2 separate regions of the Homo sapiens genome follow, and region 1 is linked to region 2. Evidence: fine-mapped expression QTL. A gene starts in region 2. The other region holds a variant in brackets. All regions are shown on one strand. Distances are between the middles of the regions. Region 1 overlaps PIR (pirin). Region 2 holds the start of PIR (pirin).

Region 1 (4,000 bases), 73 kb after region 2:
GTATTGTCATTTTAATGATATTAATTCTTCCAATCCATGAGCACAGAATAGCTTTCAATTTTTTTTGTGTCCTTTTCAATTTCTATCATCAGTGTTTTATAGTTTTCCTTGTATAGATTTTTCAATTCTTTGGTTAAGTTGATTCCCAGGTATTTTATAATCTTTTTTTGTAACCATTGTAAATAGGATTGCTTTCTTGATATTTTTTTCAGATTGTTCACTCTTGGTGTATATAAATGCTACTAATTTTTGTATGTTGATTTTGTATCCTGCAACTTTACCAAATTTGTTTATTAGTCTTAATAGGTTTTTTTTGGTGGAGTCTTTAAGTTTTTCTTAGTGTAAGATGATGTAATCTGTGAACAAGACTAGTTTGACTTCTTCCTTTCTTATTTGAATGCCCTTTGTTTTTTTTTTTTCTCTTGCCTAGTTGCTCTGGCCAAGACTTCCAGTATTATGTTGAATAAAAGTGGTTAAAATGGGCATCTTTTTCTTGTTCCAGATCTCAGAAGAATTCAGTTTTTCAACTGAATTCTTTCAATTTTTTCCCATTCAATATGGTGATAGCTGTGGGTTTGTCATAATAAGGCCTTTATTATTTTGAGGTACGTTCATTCTATACCCAGTTTGTTAAAGGTTTTTGTCATAAAGAGATGTTGAATTTTATTGAATGCTTTTTCAGCATCTATTGAAATAATGATGTTTTTTCTTCTTGATTCTGTTAATGTGATGTGTCACATTTATTGATTTGTGTATGTTGAATGTTGAAACATCTTTGCATCCTTGGGATGAATCACACTTGATCATGGTGAACAATCATTTTAAGGTGCTGTTGAATTCAGTTTGCTAGTATTTTGTTGAGAGTTTTTGCATCTATGTTCATCAGCAATATTGACTTGTGGTTTTCTTTTTTTGTTGCGTTCTTGTCTGGTTTTGGTATCAGGGTAATGCTGGCCTCATAGGATAAATTTGGAAGTACTCCCTCCTCTTCAGTCTCTTTGAAGAGTTTCAGTAGGATTGGTATTAATTTGTCTTTAAATGTTTGGTAGAATTCAGCAGTGAGGCCATCAGATCTTGGGCTTTTTTTTTTTTTATGGGAGACTTATTATGGCTTCTATCTCATTACTAGTTATTGCTTTGTTGAAGTTTTCTATTTCTTCATGGTTCAATCTTGGTAGGTTGTATGTATCCAGGAATTTATCAATTTTTTCTGGGTTTTCCAATTTCTTGGCATATAGTTGTTCATAATAGTCTCTAATGATTCTTTGTATTTCTATGGTCTCAGTTATTGTGTCTTCTTTTTCATTTCTGATTTTATTTATTTGGGTCTTCTCTCATTTATTCTTAGTCCAGCTAAAGGTTTGTCAATTTTATTTATCTTTTCAAAAAACCAACTTGTCACTTCATTGATCTTCTGTATTTTTTTGTCTCAATTTCATTTACTTCTACTCTGATCTTGATTATTTCTTTCCTTCTACTAATTTTGGATTCCATTCTGGCTATTTAAGTACAGAAAAATTTTAGATTAATTTGCTTAAACATAAGCCTTCACTATCCGTGATTTTTATAACATTAAGTGTATGTGTGCTTTAACCTTTTAGTGCAGTGCTTTTATCTTTAAACTTTTGAGTTGCTTTCCTCCAATCCCTTGTCCTCCCTTATCTATGTCCAGTACCCTCACTATATAGATCACAGATATATCCTTGAATTATATCTTGCTGTATTTTTCTCCACACTTATTTTTATACACTGACATATATGTGCATTCACATATATGCAAATATCAGGTTATTTTGTCATTTTAATAAAATGGAATCATAACTACTCTTTTACGTCCTATTTATTTGACTGAAAAATACTCATGGAAATCCTTCCCAGTTTACTTATATAGCTCCTTTTGTTTTGTTTTGTTTAAGAGACAGGGTTTCTCTGTGTCACCCAGGCTGGAGTAAAGTGGCACAATTATAGCTCACTGCAACCTCGAACTCCTGTGCCCAAGAGATCTTCCCACCCCAGCCTCCCAAGTAGCTAGGACTACAGGCACTCATCATTAATGGTGGCTCCTTTTAACAGTGATATTCTACATCATCTAAATACATACTATGATGTATTTAGCTATTTTCTATCAATGGGAATTCACTTTGTTCCTAGTGCTTGGCTACAGCAAACTGGTCTGCAATGAATACCTTGTGTATCTGCCTTCCCATGTGGAAATTTATTTTGATGAGACAGGTTTCCAGGGATGGTCACCAGATCTATGCATGCTTAGTTTTAAAAGACATTGTCAGGTTGCAATCCAAAGAGGCAGTCACACTTTCTATTAGCAGCATATAGAATACCAGTTTCTCCACAATCCCACTAGCAGGAAGTGTATGGTTCATGTTCATTTTTGCTCTGCTCTCAGACATCACCTTATATTGCCTCCTGAGAGA[GAA/A]CGTATATCTGTCAGTTTCCAAAGCTGTATTTGCATTTTATTTTGTCATCATGAATTTTAAACCTGAGATTTGTTTTCAATCATGTTTTGTTGTTGTTGTTGTTGTCGTTGTTGTTGTTTTGAGATGAAGTCTTGCTCTGTCGCCCAGGCTGAAGTGCAGTGGTGTGATCGCGGCTCACTGCAACCTCTGCCTCCCAGGTTCAAGTGATTCTCCTGCCTCAGCCTCCCGAGTACCTGAGACTACAGGCGCATGCCACCATGCCTGGCTAATTTTTGTATTTTTAGTAGCGACGGGGTTTGACCATGTTGCCCAGGCTGGTCTTGAACTCCTGACCTCAGGTGATCCGCCCACCTCGGCCTCCCAAAGTTGGGATTACAGGTGTGAGCCACTGCGCCCAGCCTCAAACACTTTTTTTTTTTTGACACGGAGTTTAGCTCTTGTCGCCCAGGCTGGAGTGCAATGGCATGATCTCGGCTCACTGCAACCTCTGCCTCCCGGGTTCAAGCGATTCTCCTGCCTCAGCCTCCTGAGTAGCTGGGATTACAGGCACCCACCACCACGCCCAACTAATTTTTGTATTTTTAGTTGAGATGGGGTTTCACCATGTTGGCCAGGCTGGTCTCAAACTCCTGACCTCAGGTAATCCATCCACCTCGGCCTCCCAAAGTGCTGGGATTACAGGCATGAACTACCACACCCGGCCTCAAAAACATTTTTATAGGGATACAACAGGAAATAGCTTAGAATTGCACATTTAGCATTGAGCGTCTGTAAACCCACTTTAAACAAGTGCGTTATGAACCCAGCTATGAAGCAAAAGATCCTTTCTTTTCCAATACATCACTTTTAGTTATAGTGTTCTCTCTTTCTCAGTCTGTCTGTCTGTATCTCTCTCTCTCTCTCCCTCCCCTATCTCTCTCTCTGTCTTACACACACACACACACACACACACACACACACACACACACACACAGACTTATCCATGCTTCCACTGCATTAGGTGACAAATACAAAGTTTGAGGCTTCTCTGTTTAGTGCCTAACAATTAATTCAAGTATTATAAAGCACTCATTATTTGCAGCTTTGATAGTCCTGGCTGCCTGTCATCAGACATACTGGATGGTAAAATTATGCTGTATAAAGTTTATTATGAAGTAATTCAAATCAAGGTCACCATTTGTCTTTTTTTTTTTTCCACCTTTCCAGGTCAAATTCCATCATAAACTCCAAGGACTGTCTAGATTCTTTTTATTTGGGTGCTTTGTTGTATCAAATATTTCGTGAAATGTGTAGGCCATTGGCTGGGTCCTGGACATGTTTCGTTTATAATGTTTTGATTGTTTTGTTACTCATGGTAAAGGGATTTGACATGGATGTCTGGATTATGTTTGGCTTTTGGCATAAGCTTTGCAGTCTAACTAATTTAATGTTGACTTGGTTTTATCATTAACAGACTAATTGGATAGCAATAGAAGCATACACTGCTACCATCCTCTCCCTGATACTGGGAAAATGCATATATTCCAAGGGAAATCCAGTTAAGGGAGACTGAAAACGTTTCTCAT
Region 2 (4,447 bases):
GAATATTTCAGAGACATTTGTCATCTAATGAATAGCAGCTACACTGCCCTGAAGGGCAAATTAACAAAATCTACAAGAAAGAATTTTTGAGTTGATGGCTTGAAGAAGAAAGAAACAAAAATAAGGAAGTGTTTCAGATGTCCATGTACTTTTTTTTTTTTTTTTTTAATTTTTGAGACTGAGTTTCACTCTTGTTGCCCAGGCTGGAGTGCAATGGCACGACCTCGGCTCACGGCAACCTCCGTCTCCTGGGTTCAAGCAATTCTCCTGCCTCAGTCTCCCGAGTAGCTGGGATTAGAGGCATGCGCCCCCACGCCTGGCTAATTTTGTACTTTTAGTAGAGACAGGGTTTCTCCATTTTGGTCAGGCTGGTCTCGAACTCCCGACCTCAGGTGATCTGCCTGCCTCGGCCTCCCAAAGTGCTGGGATTACAGGCGTGAGCCACCGCGCCTGGCCCCATGTACTTCTATAATATGTATCTTTGAAAAGAAATTCAATAAGTTTTACAGAGGAGGAAAATGGAATTCGTGAATAAAAAAGAAAAGAGTCAAGGTACCTAAATAATGTGGTTGTCTTTAAAGATTATAATGGTGTTATTTGGAATCATTTAGGGAAGGCTTTGTTCATTGTCATATCAGCATGAGTTTTCTTTATGCTTCCCAAGATTCCAAAGGTGATCAACAGTCCATCTACACACTCATATATTTAGCCACCTACTCCACATCTTGATCTGGATGTCAATGACAGTGTGAAAAGTGCTCAAAGCTTAATATACAGGGTCACATTTCTCATCTCAAAACAGGACCCTGTTACAGTGAAACATTATACGCCCTTTGTTCATTTGTAAGAATTCTTCCCTCTCTCACCTTTGTTTCTCCTCATTTTAAGTCTTCTACCTTTTCAGACTTGTTCTTTTTTCTTTTCTTTTCTTTTTTCTGCAGGGGCCTGTAAATGGAATTCCTGCATTGCTCTAACCATGTACAACCTTGGACTTAGCTTTTACCTGTAACTGGCTTCTGAGAGACAAAGAGGAGAAACGTTCACTCCTAGTACACCTATTACAGCTGCAGAGGTAGAGGAGACAGTTGCAGAACTAGTTACAATGACGATAAGAAACAATACTTTGTTATTCCATAGCACCTTTAATGTTCATGTGTATTATCTCAGCTAGCCTTGAACTGCCTAAGTAAGGTGATGAGGACGGGTTTAAGCCCCACTGATATTTTAAAAGCCCAGAGAAAAGTGTTCGTTCCTCTACTAACCTGTTCTTTTAGAGCAGGGATCTGCATACTAGGCCTGCAGCCAAAATGAGTAGGTAGCCCACTACCTATTTTTGTATAGCCAGAGGGCTAAGAATGGTTTTTACATTTTAAGTGGTTTTACATTTAAGATCAAAAGAAGGATAATATTTCATGACAAGTAAAAATTATATGAACTCAAAATTGTATGAATTTTATGAATTTATATTTCAGTATTCATAATTAAAGTTTTATTGAACTACAGCCACATTCATTTATTTACATGTTATCTATGGCTGCTTTCTTGCTACAAAGGCAAACTGGAGAATGTACATGGCCTGCAAAGTCAAAGTATTTACTATCTGGTCCTTCACAGACAAAGTTTTCCAACCTTATTTTAGAGACACCACTGTCTTTCCTTTCTCAAAACCAGGCAATGAGCCTTCTGGTGTTTAGAGAATAGAAACTGCAGCTATGCCTGTACCACTAGTTAATAATCCTAGTAATCAACTAGATCCCCTCACTGGCTTGTGCCAGCTCCTCATTCTTCTGGAAAAACTCTCCAACGCCTGCCCACTGTGTTCCAACACCATACAAACTCTTAACCAATTATCTCCCCACTAGAGTGTGCCTTCTCTTCAGGCAGGAATAAAGACGTATGGCTGCCCGTCCCCACTCCCGCACTCCTTTTCTCGCAATTCTAACTGACAAACAGCAGGCAACTTATCTATGGAACAAACGATTCTGTAGTGCTTAGAATGTGACAGGCTCATTTAATTCTCATTTCAGCCCGATAAGGCTGGCACTATTATCATCACCATCCTCATTTTATAGAGGAGGAACCAGAGGCACAGAGAGACTGAGCCACCTGTCCCAGGTCATGTCAAGTGGTGCCTCCCAGCGGTGGAGGCAGCACTGGAATCCGTGCCGCCAAGCTCCGCCGGCTGGGTGACAGGGAGACTACAGTTAAAAACAGATTTCCCACAAGACCGACCGGAGCGCCGATCAGAGCACCTGCCCGGGCCACACATTTCCTCCTGGAGCACAGCAAGTGCCGCCTAAATTACCCGAGTGAGCATCTCTTCCCGGCACGAGAGGCAGGGAGGCCAAAGGGCCGCCAAGCTGGCCTGGGAGAGGCGTAGGGCGGAGCGAGAGTGGAGTGACATTCCCGAGGGCGGAGCCCCAGGGCCTCCGAGACCCGTAGACTCCCGCCTCCCGCCTCCTCTAGGCCGCCGGCCGCGAAGCGCTGAGTCACGGTGAGGCTACTGGACCCACACTCTCTTAACCTGCCCTCCCTGCACTCGCTCCCGGCGGCTCTTCGCGTCACCCCCGCCGCTAAGGCTCCAGGTGCCGCTACCGCAGCGTGAGTACCTGGGGCTCCTGCAGGGGTCCACTAGGTGAGGGAATGCTGGCGGTCAGTTTGCAAAATCCTGCCTTCCCCAGCTCACTTTAGACTCCTAGGGGAGATAACAAGAGATACTTAAATTGTACTACGAAATTTGGTGAAAATGGTAGACGGCTTTTCTTTCTGCAAAGCACTGAGATCTAAGTACCTCATCAGTTGTTCACATGCATACAATTTAATCGTAGGAGTCTGGAAGGACCCAGACATAATCTAGATGGGGATAAAGATACTTTCTGGTTGCTTCGATGTAGGTGATGACCGGCCTGTACTGCTTTGAGTATTAAGCTCGTTTCTGCGCCTTGCAACCTATCACCCAATAAATATTTATCGATTACTATTCAGGGAGGATACATTTTAGGGTAGGCCTTGACTAAGTGGAGGGTATTGTGGAGTAGAGCCCTTCTGAATAACAGCAGCTAACATTCTCATAGCACTAACTGCACCCCTTTGAGGTAGGCGGTCTTATCATTCCATTTTACAGATAAAACTGAGCCACAGAAAACCTCAGGTCACACAGCTGATATGTGGTGAAGCTGAGATGCAAACCTAGGCTGTCTGGTTCCAGAGTCTGCTTTTTGCCAAAGCACCTCTCTTCGTTTCAGTAGGAATCTTTGAAGGAATTGGGTATATTTCACTTGAAGAAAAGATTTAAGGGATTGGGGGTACTGTCTGCAAACACTTGAAGTGGAATAGGGATAGATTATATTCCTTCTGGGATAGTCCATTAGAACCTAGACCTCCCAAAGAGGAAAAGACTTTCGAATAACAAACTCTGGCTATAGGTAAGTCCTGAAATATGAGATACATTGCCAAGAACAGCTGGTCCATGACTTGCCTATGCTCTAGGAGACTTCATGAGTAAGCTGAAAGATTTCTTGCCCAAAATGTTGGCCCTGAACTTCAGGAATAGATGGGTCTTTGAATTCAATGACCCTCGAAGATCTCTTTTAATGCCAAGATCTTCAGCATGTTCTGGTAAGAGTTAGGGACCTCTTTGTTTTTCTCCATTTTCTCTAAGGCGCCACACAAACCTGCCCCCATCTGTCAGCCTCATTGGTAGCAACTACCTCATGGGTGCTACCAGTGAGGCTGACAGATGAGTGGCACTGGGGAAGGGGTGGGAGATCGAGAGAATTCAGTGAAGTAAGAAAGACAAAGTGTTCATTGGAGATTTTTAGTAAGGGGCCAACAGAGCTGCTAAAGTCATGCTTCACTTAACGATGGGGATATGTTCGGAGAAATGCATTGTTAGGTGATTTTGTCGTTGTGCAAGCATCTTAGAGTACACTTAGACAAACCTAGCTGGTATAACCTAGGTGTGTAGTAGGATATATGGTATAGCCTATTGTTCCTAGGCTACAAACCCATACAGCATGTTCCTGTACTGAATACTGAGGCAACTGCAACACCGTGGTGAGTATTTGTGTATCTAAACATACCTAAACATAGAAAAGATACAGTAAAAATATGGCATTATAGTCTTATGGGACTACTGTCATACATACAGTCCATATATTGTTGACTGTGTAATGTTGACCTGAATGTCATTATGTGGCAGGCACATGACTGTATCGCTAACCTTCGCACAAGATTACTGTAGGATTACATGAGATAGTTGTAAATAATTGGTGGGGTACTGGGCACCTAGTAGGTATGCATACATGTTCACCATCATTATGGTTGTTTTAAATCACCTAACCCAGGCCCTGCACATAGTAAGACATCAACAAATTGTAGCTGCTACTATTTTGCGCATCTAATCTTAATATCATTTATTTTGTAGTCCTTGGATGTTCCCTCCTTT

The links. PIP is the estimated chance that this variant, and not a neighbour inherited with it, causes the effect. A credible set is the group of variants that fine-mapping cannot tell apart.
Region 1: its variant is the best candidate, but not a certain one, in a credible set for the expression of PIR in nasal epithelium (TOPMed, PIP 0.53).

Annotation. Positions count from the first base shown.
Region 1 is chrX:15,418,752-15,422,751 of GRCh38, reverse strand. All of the region lies in intron 6 of PIR (pirin), which reads left to right. All of the region lies in intron 5 of PIR-FIGF (PIR-FIGF readthrough), which reads left to right. Among named protein-coding and RNA genes, the nearest start is that of VEGFD, 36 kb to the right of the region's middle. The variant GAA/A (reference allele first, on the strand shown) is at 2,433.
Region 2 is chrX:15,491,344-15,495,790 of GRCh38, reverse strand. It overlaps PIR (pirin), which reads left to right and starts at 2,458. Exons shown (of 10, transcript NM_001018109.3): 1 at 2,458-2,601. RefSeq lists enhancers at 2,042-2,545, 2,546-3,048.